2 separate regions of the Homo sapiens genome follow, and region 1 is linked to region 2. Evidence: fine-mapped expression QTL. A gene starts in region 2. The other region holds a variant in brackets. All regions are shown on one strand. Distances are from middle to middle.

Region 1 (4,400 bases), 33 kb before region 2:
AAAAACAAACTTCAATCAGCTATGCTAACTATTAAAATCTTTGTGTTATCTCAATAGTAAACTTTTTGTATGAAAATGCAATCAAAGAACATATAGCCAAAAAAGAAGGAAAAATTATAGAGGTACATTAGGCTCTTAGTTTTCTTAAGATAGCTTGCTACATTCTGTGTTTTTTTTGTGTGTGTAACTTGTTCTTTCATCACTTTAAATATATCTATTTCCACACTAAATTTTGTTTTCTTTCTCTTAAGGAGTTCTACAAAATTGTTTAAACTTTAGGCCTATAAAACTTGAATTGACCCCAATGACATATATTCATTTCTTTAATCCCAACTAGCAAGATGCTTTTATTAATGTCTTCATTTTAAAACTGAGAAAACTATGGGAGGGAGATATTAAGATCACAGAGACGGCCAGTGGTGTAACCTGGATTTAAAGCCAGCAGGTTGGCTTTTGAGCCTGTGTCTTACTCATTCTCCACCCTGCTGCCCTTGAGAATAAATGAAGTCCAGCCCTTTTCCTTAAGGAATGTGCAGTACAATAGTGGACCCTAAAAATTACAGTATATCAAGATATGTGCCAGATTAGTTATACAAGGTACAGAATTAGAAAGGAGAAATTAAATTTCTAGGATAGTAGGGGAGATTTCACAAAGAGATACCTTCTTGGTTACATTAAAGTTTAAATTTGAAATTATATTTAAACTCATGTACCTAAAATCACTGGCTCTGGTCACCAGGCAATGATTTCTAGTATTGAACTACTGTATATATTACCTCATCCCAGATTAAGTTGATTGAACAATAGTTTTCAAAAGCACCACAGAGATTCAAAGAATAAACTAAGGCTTTTGACAATGCTTTAACCCTCCCACCATTCCCACAAACATAACAGGAATGATGATAGAAATGAAAAGACCACAATTCAGAGGTCCATGTGCTTATCCAGGATGATACAAATCTGATGCAAAATTAATATAGGACTAGGTTTTGTTAATCCTAATGTAGTTTTCCATTCAGTGTTCTATATGTCCTAACCAAAACTTGGTTTTGTAGATTAAAATGATGTTTTAACAAGTCTCTCTGGTGGTTTTAGAAGTAGAAACCATGGGCAGGGCATAGTGGCTCATGCCTATAATCCTAGCACTTTGGGAGGCCAAGACTGACTGATCACTTGAGCCCAGGATTTCAAGACCAGCCCAGGAAACATGAAGAAACCCTGTCTCTACAAAAAATAGAAAAATTAGCCGGGCTTTGTGGCACGTGCCTGTAGTTCCACCTATTCAGGAGGCCGAGGTGAGAGGATCACCAGAGCCCAGGAGGTCAAGGCTGCAGTGAGCCGTGATCACACCACTGCACTCCAGCCAGGGTGACAGAGCAAGACTCTGTCTCAAAAAAAAAAAAAAAAAAAAAAAAAAGAGGAGGAAATAGAAACCTTGCTTTATAGGCTAAGGAATTCACCTTAGAATGAATCTCATGCTACAGAAAACAAATCTAGATGTTTTGCTTTAAAAAGGACAGAAAATAAGCTCCATTTTTCTATTAAAAAAAGTGACAAGTGAAGAGAGTTAATTTGATAAGTAACAGTATGATGGGAGAATAAATATAAATAGGATTCATTAGAAAAAAATTAAAATTTAATCAACTTTAATGGGCTCCTGTATAGTCCAAGCAGCTTAAGGCACTAGATTATTTCCTATGAAAAGATCTGAGAATAGGCAGTTCAACAAGTTGGAAATTTAATTTTTGAAATAACATTAAGCAAGGACCAAATATCCATGTTAATCAGTAGCATTTAGTTATAACTGGCTCAGTGATCAGACAATAAATTGCTTTGTAATACTAATTTGTTCGTGAGAAGATGGCATTAAATTTAAAGTAATTGATGGAAACAAACTGCTAAAAGAAAAATTATGAAAGACTCACAAAAAACAAAGGAGAGAGAGTTCTTCTCCAAAAGAACATTATTATGGTTTTCTCTCCTGGGGGTTGCCCTTACCTCATGTATTAGTTTGTTCTCACACTGCTAAAAAAGATATACCCAAAACTGAGTAATTTATAAAGGAAAGACGTTTAATTGACTCACAGTCTCACCTGCCTGGGGAGGCCTCACAATCATGGCAGAAGGCAAAGGAGGAGCAAAAGCACGACTCACGTGGCGGCAGGCAAAAGGGCGTGTGCGGAGGAACTCCTGTTTATAAAACCACCAGATCTCGCGAGACTTATTCACTACCATGAGAACAGTATAGGGGAAACCACCCCCGTGATTCAATTATCTCCACCTGGCCCCAACCTTGACACGTGGGGATTATTACAATTCAAGGTGAGATTCAGGTGTGGACACAGCCAAACCGTATCATCTCAACTCCACCCAGCCAATCTTACTCATTCTTCAAGTTCCAGTTCCAAAGCTAAGACTAATAATCATTCCCTGATGTC[A/G]TTCTTCTTTTCTGTGCTCCTTCAGTACTGTTGTCTTTTGTTCTGTTTAATTTTGTTTGTATTTATCGCCCTCGCAATACTATGTGCCTTTAGTATATAACCGTGTGATACAGAGCGGAAAGGAATCCTCAATATCCTTTGGTTTAATGTTTTAGTAGCAGGGTCTAGCTGAGTCCAGGCTGTAAAACAGGATTAGGGTAGGATTAAGGTAGGACTATTTGGCTGGTGGTGCTAGGAACAGAGTGAATTTTTAAAAATTGAACAATTTCAAAATTTTTATTTCTCAGTGATTAGCTTTAAATTTACATTCCTATGCACATGGAGTTATGTCAGGAAACTCTTGTTTGTACCACCTCTTTCTGGCAGCCTGCAGGAAATGAAGTAGCATCATGGGCAGCATGTTAATCATTGATGATGAATGTGGCCTGGGATGAATTTGATTACAGGATTGCTGTGTACCATGTGACATGAGGGGCTCATAATAGGCTTAAAGATGATAAAAATATTTTTTGTTCTCTTAAATATCATAGAAATAACTGGAAACATTAATAGAAATACAGTTGGCTCTCCATATCCATAGGTTCCCCATCAGTAGATTCAACCAACCATGGATCAAAAATATTTAGGGGGAAAAAACTTCACAAAGTTCCAAAAGGCAAAATTTGAATTTGCCACACACTGAGGACTATGTTGAATCCACATGAATGAGGAGATGTGTACGCATTATATAAGTAATCTAGAGATTATTTAAAGTGTACAGGAGGATGTGTGTGGGTTATCTGCAAATACTATACCACTTTATATAAGAGGCTTGAGCATCTGTGGATTTTGTTATCTGCAGGTGGTGCTAGAGCCAGTCTCTCATGGATATAGAGGGACAGCTATAATTTCTTTATAAATTGGTATTGACCACATAAAGAACCTCATTGACTACATATAGAACCTCATTACTTTTTTTTTTTTTTTTTAATATGGAGTCTCACTCTGTCGCCCAGGCTGGAGCACAGTGGCGCGATCTCGGCTCACTGCAACCTCCGCCTCCCAGGTTCATGCCATTCTCCTGCCTAAGCCTCCCAAGCAGCTGGGACAACAGGCACCCGCCACCACATCTGGCTAATTTTTTGTATTGTTAGTAGAGACGGGGTCTCAATCTCCTGACCTCATGATCTACCCGCCTCGGCCTCCCAAAGTGCTGGGATTACAGGCATGAGCCACCACGTCTGGCCTACTCATTTTTTTTTTTAAGAAATCAATTCTTTTTGAATCATTCTATGTTTCCATGGGTTGCTAGGCAAGGATTTGGTTTTTGCTTTGGGTGGGAGGGTCAGGGAGGAAGATTAAAGTTCCGGGGTGGCGTAATAGCCAGACGGAGGAGGGAAATGAGATGGCAATCAACTGCCAATAGCTGAAAGAGCTGTTTTTGAGACTTTGTTGGGGGATAGATGCTGAAAGAACTAGTTTTGTGAATGACTTCATGAGTATCTGAGAGTAAGGAGAGCAAGTTTGGTGTTGGGTTAACAAATGTCGAGCAGAACTGGTGGAGATCATGCCTGATCCTCACTGTACCATGGGCTCAGTGCAGTTTGGGATACTCTGAGGACTCAAGATCAACAATGAATGGCCTTGATGCCATCACTCTCTGGAAGGGCATTGGCAAAAGAAGTGGTACTAAGGTACCTTGGCAATAAGAGATTGTGGGAAACCAGATCAGACTTGAAGAGAACATTTGAGATGCCTCCCCACTCCACTACCCAGGGATATCGGAAGTAATAGGCTGCAGGGACTGCAGGGTGAGAAACCTGGGTGGAGCAAGGGCTGATAAGAGCCATCAGAATTATGTGGCCTTGTTTGTGCTCTCAGGCCAGCAAGAGCATTTGAGTTATGTTCTCATTTAACAGGTAAGCAAACAGTGGTCAAGACCCCAAATGACCTGCTCAGGATTTCACAGAAAGCTAATGACAG
Region 2 (4,400 bases):
GCATATGCAAATGAAGTCAGTGGTAAATGAGAGATGGAGTCACATGGGTTCAAGCTGTCTTGAATCACTCTCTGAGACTATCACCATGGTGGCACCCACTCATAAGGGCTTTTAGTAGAACAGAGTCCATAGACAACTATCACACTAGTTAAGGCTGGTGGATCATATGGAATACATAAACAAAATTGGTGATGAAATGTTACACCAATGATGAAACTGTGCATAGGGTTTAGAGGGTGTGGGGAAGGGGAAATAGGAGAGGGAAAGATTTACAGAGGAAGTGATGTTTGCACAGAATCTGTTTCTGCTCATCTGCTTCAATTTCACCTCAGAGTTGTTCTGTCTTTAACCTTCATCCTAGTTTCTGTTTGGTTGGTTATTAGTATGTTGTTTGATTGATTGTTTAAAGAAGGCGTTATAATTTGCTTACTATTTCCCAATGCCAATATATTTCTGTAGAGTTTTATTACTTATTTTTGTGAGCATTGTACTCACATGAAAAAGAAAAATGTATCTTCTTAGGACTGATTCTTACAAATTTGAAATAGCTATAGTTTATAACTTACATGGCCAAGCCCTGCTAGAAGTATCTTGCAAAGGGTTTGACACAGAAGCTTGGCCAAGCTGTGAAAAATCTCTCAAAGTAGTTAACACACTTCTTGAGTATTACTGGAAACTTGATAAACTAAGAAGAGAATTTTGACCAGGTATCACAAGAAATTTGTACTGGGGACTTCTAAGAATAAGCGTGTACTATTTCACAGTCAACTAGAAGAAGGCATTAGGACATTAGGGCTATTTTCTCAATATCTTGTTGATTAATAGTTCTTCCCTTTGCAGACAGAGTAGAAAATTTCACCAAGTAAAGATTTTAGCCCTGCTTTAGTTTAATTCATCTCATATTCCTTTATTTCTATTCTTCCTCCCACATCTTTCCTTCTCAGGTCTGGTTCCCTATATGCGGAGCTTCAACCCCCAGAGGATATTTAACCTTGTCTCCCCCTCCACACTGCTGCATTCCCCACCACATCTCTTTCCCTCTCTTTCCATCCACCTGAAGAGATGAGAGCATATACAGAAAGTAGCTCCCAGCTGTAGCTCAACCATTAAACACCAAGAGAAAGGAAAATGAACTCTGCCAGACTTAGATCAATTAGAAGATTCCTTTGTAACCTAAATACATTTTTAAAAGCTTATCATCAAATTATGCAGTCATTTGCAGTTTGAGGTAAAACAACTCCTTCATTTTCATGGCCCTCTCCCCTATTCAAGATGACATCAACTGCATATTAGTTTTACCTTGTATGCATTTCTCAATAGTAAAACCATTAGTCAGTAGCATCTGAATGTACATTGATACAGTGGGTGTTTTGTGGTAATTATAAGGTAATTACTTCCTATCCTTAAATAATTGTCATTTCCACAAACAAACAAAATAGGATAAACAACAATACAGCATACATAAAACAACTGCCATCTCCCTAAGACACCAGAATAGCCTGTTAATCAAGGAAAGCTAAATTTATTAAATCTACTACAGTAAGGGAGGCCACACTTTGACAGAAGCTTGGCAGTCTCAGAAGGAGAAGGTTGGGGGTGATATTTATAGGATTTGGGGAGTCTGAGCAAAAATGGTTTAAAACAGGTCTTTTGAGGCAGGGAACTGTTTGGGGGATTGGGTAAAGTGTTTGACCTAATAGTTTAGGGTCGGTGCTAGAGTGACCAATTTTACTGATTTCCTAGGACTTTCTCAATTTTAGCACTAAAAATCCTCCAACTGGAGAATCCTTACAGTCCTGGGCAAACTGGGACCATTGGTCACCCTAATTAGCAGACATACCGTCGCAAGACTGCTGGGTAATTTGAACAGTAGTACCAGAGCAACTGACAAAACATTGTAGCCCATCTTCCCAAGGCTGGATACAAAGTTTTCTGAAGCATTCACATTTACAGCCTCTATTTGACAAAATACTGCATGCCTATGTGCGTTCAACTCACATAATAATGAAACTTAACTTTAAAAATGTTTTTATTGCAGTAAGGTATATAAAACATGAATTCGACAGTTTAACTATTTCTATGCATACAAGTGAGTGGTATTAATTACATTCACAATGTTAAGCGACCATCATCACTTAATTTTTTTAAAGGACGTTTATATTCACTCATCTATCAACGTAGTAGGCACTGTCCTAGGCGCTAGGGATTCCATGCAGAGCAAAAAACGTCACAGTCCATGCCTTCACATGGCCTTCATGGACCACCGCGGGTGTTCTTTTTCCCCCGAGTCTTTATGTACTTGGGAAAAGTGGCCAGGGTTGAAAGGTGCAATGAGTACACGGCAGAGGTCAGAGAGGTTCCCACTCAGCCCGGCGTCTGGAAGCAGCGTGGGGTAGGGGCCGCTCCAGTACCCCCTCCTCCAGTGTCGAAGGTGGGCAGGCCCTCGGCCGGGTGGATGAGCCGCGACTGGAGGGGGCGGGGCCTGGGCGGGAGGCGGGCGGTGGGCGTGTCCGGGGCGGGGCTGTACCGGGCGCTGGGCGGAGGAGCCTTGGCTGGGGACTGCCTGGAAACGGGCTGGGCCTGCCTCGGACGCCGCCGGTGTCGCGGATTCTCTTTCCGCCCGCTCCATGGCGGTGGATGCCTGACTGGAAGCCCGAGTGGGATGCGGCTGACGCGGAAGCGGCTCTGCTCGTTTCTTATCGCCCTGTACTGCCTATTCTCCCTCTACGCTGCCTACCACGTCTTCTTCGGGCGCCGCCGCCAGGCGCCGGCCGGGTCCCCGCGGGGCCTCAGGAAGGGGGCGGCCCCCGCGCGGGAGAGACGCGGCCGAGGTAGGACTGGGTCGGCGGCTTCCTTCCGGCTCTGCGCTCCTGGCTGGGGCTGCTGGGCGGCTGGGGCCGGGTCCCCGCACCCGGCTCTCAAGTCCGGGATTACCCGCAGGGCCTGAGAAGCGCTTTGCCCCCTACAGCCTCTCGAGCCAGCCCTTGGCTCGGAATTGGAGAATGGTCCTCATTCTTACCCAGATCTCACACGCCGTCCCCGCTCCCGATCCCAGGGGGTGACAGGCGCGCACGCCTTTCAAACACGTGTTAAAATCCAAGACGTCGTCTCAAATGCCAGAGATTTGCGGGAATGCTCCTGGAAGGCCTCAAAATCGCCGCAAGGTTTAAGACATCCGTTTCCATGTTGAAACAAAGCCCTCTCTAATCCTGCAGTGACCATAAGGCAGACTTTACCTCCAAATTCTGGTCCCCTGTCCTGTGTTTTAACTTGTGTTAAGATCAGACTCGGCTTTCTCTTTCCCTTTATTCAGAATTTTGCACGATAGTATCTAAGACTGGTGAACACTACACTCTGAAGTCAGTTTTTTGTGCATAGGTTACCTGTATACAATGGATAAAAATAATTGCAAAAGTTAAGCTTGTAACTTGATACATATTATCCTGTTATTTTTAAAGGTTTTGTGTTGGGGAAGAGAATTTTCCTGTCTCAAGGTAGCATTTTATTTCTAAGACTTTTCAGAGTAAAAAAAGTTCAGTAAAAAAATTGCTGATTTTCTTTTTTGTTTTCATTGTGTATTACCAGTTTAAATTCAGTTGCTGTACCTCTCAGAAATTAAAGTTAGGATGAAATTAGAACTAACACTTAATTTAAATGATTTGAATTTACCTACAACTGCAATAATACCTTACTGGTAAACACTTACTCTTTTTAAAACAGAACAGTCCACTTTGGAAAGTGAAGAATGGAATCCTTGGGAAGGAGATGAAAAAAATGAGCAACAACACAGATTTAAAACTAGCCTTCAAATATTAGATAAATCCACGAAAGGAAAAACAGATCTCAGTGTACAAATCTGGGGCAAAGCTGCCATTGGTAAGTTAATACGTAGAAGGAAGACATGTAAAAAGCATTATAAAATGTATTTTATTGATATGAAATTCATTTTAATATAATTTATTTCATAATTTGTTAATTAAGGCATCATGATATATTTTTTCGCTTTTTGTCAATAATTCCTTTCTCCTTCCAATTAGACAACATCTGTTTGTAAATGTACACACATACATATTCCACTGTTGGTCTTTAGCAGAGCACAGCTTCATTTATTGATACATTGAGTAGGCTGTATAGTGTCATTAGATTGCAATGCATATGTCAACTGAATTTTCATGAATCTGTGTATTTTTTGGACACTTGATACACAAGTATAAGATGTGGCCCCTGCCCTTGATGGCCAAACACATTTGGGAAACACTGAAGAGTACAAAGTTAAACAAGGTTCTTCATTGCAGGCCTTTCTCAAGAGCCTTTAATATGACAATGTTCATTGTATCAGCGAAGGAATATATTATAGTATGTAGTTGATTAAACTTGATTGACCACAGAAGCATTTTTGC

What was found. PIP is the estimated chance that this variant, and not a neighbour inherited with it, causes the effect.
Region 1: its variant is fine-mapped to the expression of RXYLT1 in cerebellum (GTEx, PIP 0.98).

What each region holds. Positions count from the first base shown.
Region 1 is chr12:63,744,487-63,748,886 of GRCh38, forward strand. No RefSeq gene overlaps it. Among named protein-coding and RNA genes, the nearest start is that of RXYLT1, 33 kb to the right of the region's middle. The variant A/G (reference allele first, on the strand shown) is at 2,439.
Region 2 is chr12:63,777,299-63,781,698 of GRCh38, forward strand. RXYLT1 (ribitol xylosyltransferase 1) reads left to right here and starts at 2,611. Exons shown (of 6, transcript NM_014254.3): 1 at 2,611-2,831; 2 at 3,721-3,876. The coding sequence starts at 2,663. RefSeq lists silencers at 2,430-2,659, 2,676-2,951, 2,680-2,979.